2 separate regions of the Homo sapiens genome follow, and region 2 is linked to region 1. Evidence: fine-mapped expression QTL. Tissue or cell type: testis. Region 1 holds a variant in brackets; the other region holds the start of a gene. All regions are shown on one strand. Distances are between the middles of the regions.

Region 1 (2,910 bases):
GATTTGGGAGGCCAAGGCTACAGTGAGCTATGATCATGCCACTGCATTTTGGCAACAAAGCGAGACCCTATCTCCAAATAAATGAATAAATAAATAAAAAGAGTAATCAGAAAATTTAAGCAAAGGGATTATATAATTAGATTTACAGTGTAGGAAAATTAAACCTGAGGAGTTCATGCATTATGATCCTCCCTTTTCCCCTCACCTCTTTAGCCAATACTTTCTCCCACCATTTCCTGCCCTCCAGGCAAAAAGAGCACAGGACTCCACCTCCGATTCTTCTGCCTGGCAAGCACCTCCTCCCATGTGGGCCCTGAGGTGCTGTCTCATCTTGAAGACCAGATACAGCTTCTCCTCTCTGAAGGTGTCCTCACCTCCCCATACACATGGGAATCTCCCCAGTGTGCCCCCTTTGCAGCCCTCGTTCATTACACGGAAATAGCTCCTTTGTAGTCATCTGTTTCCCCTACCAGAGTGGGAGCCCCCTCAAAGACAGGCGCTGTGTCACTCATATTTGCATCCACAGTTCCCAGGGCAGAGCCAAGCAGTGGTTGCATTCTTCACATGGAATCCTACATTGTTAACCACAGGGCTTCCGCCAGGACCTCATGGTGCATCTCCACAGATTTAACCTTAGTGGTGACATTGCTGGGGGCAAATGTGACCACTATCCCGAATTTGAAAAAGCCACCCTCCACACGGCCCACTGGCACACTGCCAATGCCTGTTCAACCCAGGAAGGGAAGTCAGTCCCAGACACACCCAGTGAGAACTGGCTTCCTGGGAGGCCCCTTGGCTTTTGAGTTCAAGGACAAAGGACCACCTGTGGAATTGGTAGAAAGCACTAGATGGATCTCTGACTGTTTAAAACTGTGTAGTGGATAGCTTGGAAATGCTAGGTGCTTTTCCACTTTATCCTTGCTCAGGGAAGAGGTGGAGTCAGGATTTGAACCCTGGCAATCATACACCTGTGGACTCCCTCGGGGATTCAATTAAGGATCAACTCCAGAATCCCTAACAGAGTAGTCTACCCTCAGCTCCACTCAGGCCTGGGTCACCTCCCATCTTGTACACATCTTGCAGGGGCAGCCTCAGGGGATTGTCGACCCTGCGCGTTGTTGGGAGGATGGAGTTCAAAGCTTCCAGCAGAGTCACCCCCATGGCGTTCCCCTCCTTCCACTCTACCTTCCAGCACTTGAACCAGGGCATCTTCGGGATGTCGAGGGGAGGTGAGTCCGGGGTGTGGTCCGCTCGCCTCCACCCCGGCTGTCCCTGCCGACCCGCGCCACACTCGCGTCAGTGCTGGGCTCCAGCATGCTGTCGCCGTGCCAGCTCGAGATGGACTGAAGGCCAGGCAGCCAGTTGTAGCCGATCTTCTTGATGCAGGCGCTTACTTCCTTGGTGATCACCTGGAGGCGCGAGCCGCTGTAGGCGGGCTCGGTGGAGTCAATTTCGTTGAAGATCACGATGAGCTGCGTGACGTCCCGCC[A/C]GTTGGCCAGCAGCGCGAGCTCGTGGGTCTGCGGGTTCTTGAAGATGCCGGCCTCCGCCCAGCCGCCTGCCACGAAGAGCACCGCGCAGTCGGCCTGCACCGCGGGGATACACAAACACACCGGGTTGCGGGAGGGGGCATCGGACTGACTTTGGGAGGTTCCGAATCCCATTGTAAAGCTGGGGAATGCCCTCCAGAACTCAGATGGCCAAATGGGATTCATGGACCACCCTAGATGCGGTGCATGGGGGTCCTGCTTCCCAGTTCCTCTCATTTAATCTCATCTAAATCAGCTTTTAGTCCCTTCTTTCTGGACCAACTGATCTACTAGTCTGAGTGTAAGAAAACCTGGTCCCTCTAGGCCCCCCCAGGACAACAGGATCTGAGCTTCATGAGAGTGATGGGACTTTCAGTCCTGTCCTCCCTAATTCTTTCAGGATTGATGGATGATGGCCATAGGTGAGGAAAAGGCTTACAAGCCTTATGATACCTTCCTTCTCCAAGCTTCAGAAATAAATCTTGAGTTTCCCCCTCTATAGGAATGTTTCTGAAGGCATGGACTGCTTTACCTGGGAAGTGCCCCTGATCATGGTCATGATGAAGTCTCTGTGGCCTGGAGCATCGATGATAATGCTGTAGTATGTGCTAGTCTTGAACTTCCACAGGGAGATATCAATGGTGATCCTGCGTTCTCTTTCTGCCCTCAGCTTGTCCAACACCCAGGCATACTTGAAGGAGCCCTCGCCCACCTGGGAAGGGGTGGGAGAATAAATGCACTGATGGACAGCAGATAAATCTACCTCAAACAGCAGCATTTTAGGCTTGCAGAGTGCATGGTTTTCTGTACTCTGTAGCTAGAACTACCCACAAGAAAGAGGCTTCCCCTCCACACACTTCCAGACACAGAGGGAGCCTTACCTCTGCCGGCTCCTTTTCAAACTTCTCAATGATTCTCTTGTCAATGCCCTCACATTTGTGAGAGGCCCAGTGGTGGTGGACTTGCCAGAGTCCACATGGCCAATGATGATGATATTGATAAAGGCCTTCTCTTTGCTCATGGCAGTAGGTTTACTAGAATAACTGCTGGTCAAGACAGCCAGGTGGTGAGACTAGATTATTCCAGGCCTGTCTTCTTCTATTCCCTCTTACTGAATAATTAATTTATGTTTTTTATCTTATTTTCAGATCCTTTTCCTTCCCGTCTCCACATGTCCAGAAGTTTGGTCCCCATAAAATTACAGTGGGCTGGGCACAGTTGCTCACGCCTGTAATCTCAGCACTTTGGGAGCCTGAAGCAGGAGGATCACTTGAACTTAGGAAAAGAAGGCCAGCCTGGGCAATATGATTTAACCCATCTCTACAAAAAATTAAAAATAGAGAAAAGAAAAATTAGCCAGGCACAGTAGTGTGCACCTGAGGGG
Region 2 (2,910 bases), 54 kb before region 1:
TTGGGAGGCCGAGGCGGGTGGATCACTTGAGGTCAGGAGTTCGAGACCAGCCTGGCCAACATGGTGAAATACTGTGTCTACCAAAAATATAAAAAATTACCTGGGTGTAGTGGCGAGCGCCTGTAATCCCAGCTACTCGGGAGGCTGAGGCAAGAGAATCCCTTGAACCTGGGAGGCAGAGGTTGCAGTGAGCCTAGACCATGCCACTGCACTCCAGCCTGGGTGACAGAGTGAGAGACTCCATCTCAAAAAAAAAAAATTTCTAGAGTCACAGGCCACACCAAATACATATTACTATTTGCTAAAAATGGTCTGACTCCTTAGAAAAGCATTTTTAAGCTATATGGTTGTTTTACTGCTGCTATCTTTCCATTTTAATTCACTCTAATATTTGAATTTGCTCCCAAGGCCCAACTTGAAGAAACTGCAAAATTAACAAACAGGTGACTGAGCTCCTTCCTAAGCTGAAGTGGTCATCATGCCCCATGACCTGTGAGGGCTAGAGTTCAGATACTGCCCCCCACTCTGGTTTTGTTTCTTTGAAGACCTGACTAGGGGAATATTGAAATGAGAGTGGATTGAAATAGGAAAAATATTTTCAGGATTACAACACGATTTAGCCAAATCATTGCTTTAATTTTCACAGTTAATCCCAGGAATTCCCAGTCTTCGGAAAAGACCACAATATTTCAAAGCAATTTAGTTCAGTCCAAGCAGAATCTGCAATTTCTGCATTTACTCTCCGTCAACTGGAATTGGGTCTTCAGATGACCTGGAGATAAGTTTTTGACACAAAACCTACTGAAATGCTTCCATTGATTAACTCATTTTTTCAGCAAGGATTTTCTAAGCGACTACTACATAAAGCTACAGTGCTTGGCAAGGAAGGAAGTGGGATGTCAAGTACAGGTGGTGAGATTTCTGTGGCCTGATGTGGGCACCTCTGGAAAGACACGCATTGGAGCGCGACGGGGTAGCGATGGCATCCAGCAGCGTGGGTTCCCACAGCGCCGGCGCCCGGCCAAAAAGCGCGCCAGTAAAACTTTCCGCAATTCCCTCTGTGCCAAGCGCGTCCTGGGCAGCCGCACTTCGGAGGGGCAAAACTCACCCTAACTTTTGAGTGCAGAGTCAAACTTAAGGAATAGGTTAGAGTGAAGGGAAAGGGGAGCCCGGGCTGAGGAGGGAAAAGGCAGCGCATATCCCGGGGTCAGGGACAAGATCAGAAGACAAGGAAGGGCCCGATGCCAGCACCCAGCATCAGGAATGGTGCTCACCTGCGTTCCGGAGCTTGCGGTTCCTGAGCACGGAGAGGATCACCAGGAGGTTGCCCACGACGTCCACGGCGGTGGTGACGATGAGCACCGCGGACAGCGCTGGAGCCACCCAGGGAGGTCGAGGGGTCCTGGAGGGCCGCGCGCTGCCAGCCCCCGACCAGCCCGGGCGCACTGCCCACCCGCCCGCCTCGCAGCAGTTGGCGAAGGAGCCGTTCTCTGACATCGCAGACTCTCCCGCGCTGTGCTTTGGCCACCGCGCGGCCCCGGACAGCCGCAGGGCGCGCGCAGTACTGAGCCGGGCGCTCTCTTCCCTGCCCAGCTCGCGTGTGCAAGGGAGGAGGCCAGTGGGGAGGGGTCTGGAGGAGATAACTAATTAAGCGTGGGCAGGGGATGGAGAAAAATATAGGAATGGGAGGAGGACTTGGGGTGCAGCCGTTGTAGAAGGGAGTGCGTCCCTCAGCGGTGCGCTCAGGAACAGCTGGGACCGCACAGCTGTCTCTGCCACCCCGAGCCCAGCAGGTGCCTGGCCCACCTCAGGCTGCGGAGCGCGTCTAGCTTCTGTCCCTGAGTATATAGCCACACCCGAGACCCCGATTTCCTCCACAGCGTCCCCAAGAGAAGCTGTGTCTAGGTAGGGACGTCCAACCCAGGTTGATAGACTGGAGAAGGTGCTGATGGTAGGGACCTCCCATCAGTTGTCAAGAAAGGCAAGGTTTGACGTCCCATAGGGCTGTGCAGCCCGAAAGAGAATGCAACTCCTAAGATGTGGGGACAGAGCCCAGAACAAAGTAGGGTAGACTGTTATATTCTAGGGAGCTGCAGAAAAATACGAACCTAGCCATTTTCCAAGCACTCGCTGGGTATTGTGGGGGGCATTGATGATGTCTCTACTGGGTCCTCTTTATAAAGCCAATACTTTAACATATTTACCAACATATATTTACACATAATACTTAAATAGATGTATGGCCAATATTGGGGGTTATGATGTGGTTTTTGGAGGGGTTAGGACAAGAAGAAGATTGAGGCATGATTACAATAAAGAAGGAACTCAGGTGCCCTTTATTAAAAATGTTTGAGTCGTGATCTGGTGATAATAATAATAGATAACTTCTAATGGGGGCTAATCTTATGACCCCAAAGCACTTTTCACACCCATTAGAATCACTAAAATCAAAATGACTGATTATCCTATATTTGTGGAGGAAGTTAAGCAACCAGAACCCTCATACACTGCTTTTATGAGAATGCAAAATGGTATAGCCACTTTGAAGAGCTGTCTGTTAGCTCCTAATAAAGTTAAATATACACCTATTCTATGACCAGAAGTTCCAAATGAAAAGGAAAGTATATTTCCACCAAAAGACCTGTACAAGAATGTCCAGAGCAGCCTTGTTTATAGGAGCTCAAATCTGGTAACACCTGCAATTTCCACCAACAGAAGAATGGATAAGCAAATTATGGTATGACCTTGCAATGGAATACTACTCAGCAATAAAGATGATTGACCTACACAACAGCATGGATTAATCACAAATATGTTGTATTGAACAAAAGAAGCCAGATACCAAAAAATATATACCATATTATTCCAGTTATAGGAAGTCCAAAATCAGGGAAAATTAATCTATTTTCT

Alleles and levels. Alleles are on the strand shown, and positions count from the first base shown. SD is a standard deviation of normalised expression in the study named.
For the expression in testis of the gene that starts at base 1,572 in region 2, C is the high allele of the variant in region 1 and A is the other (large effect, 1.1 SD a copy in GTEx).

The links. PIP is the estimated chance that this variant, and not a neighbour inherited with it, causes the effect. A credible set is the group of variants that fine-mapping cannot tell apart.
Region 2: it holds the start of MTNR1B, and the variant in region 1 is the best candidate, but not a certain one, in a credible set for the expression of MTNR1B in testis (GTEx, PIP 0.67).

Annotation. Positions count from the first base shown.
Region 1 is chr11:92,914,240-92,917,149 of GRCh38, reverse strand. LINC02746 (long intergenic non-protein coding RNA 2746) reads left to right here and starts at 1,522. Exons shown (of 3, transcript NR_135091.1): 1 at 1,522-1,948; 2 at 2,029-2,127; 3 at 2,675-2,910. It also overlaps the pseudogene EEF1A1P49. The variant A/C (reference allele first, on the strand shown) is at 1,490.
Region 2 is chr11:92,968,313-92,971,222 of GRCh38, reverse strand. It overlaps MTNR1B (melatonin receptor 1B), which reads right to left and starts at 1,572. Exons shown (of 2, transcript NM_005959.5): 1 at 1,275-1,572. The coding sequence starts at 1,497. It overlaps LOC124902733 (a long non-coding RNA gene), which reads right to left. Exons shown (of 2, transcript XR_007062838.1): 2 at 2,308-2,910. RefSeq lists an enhancer at 525-1,024.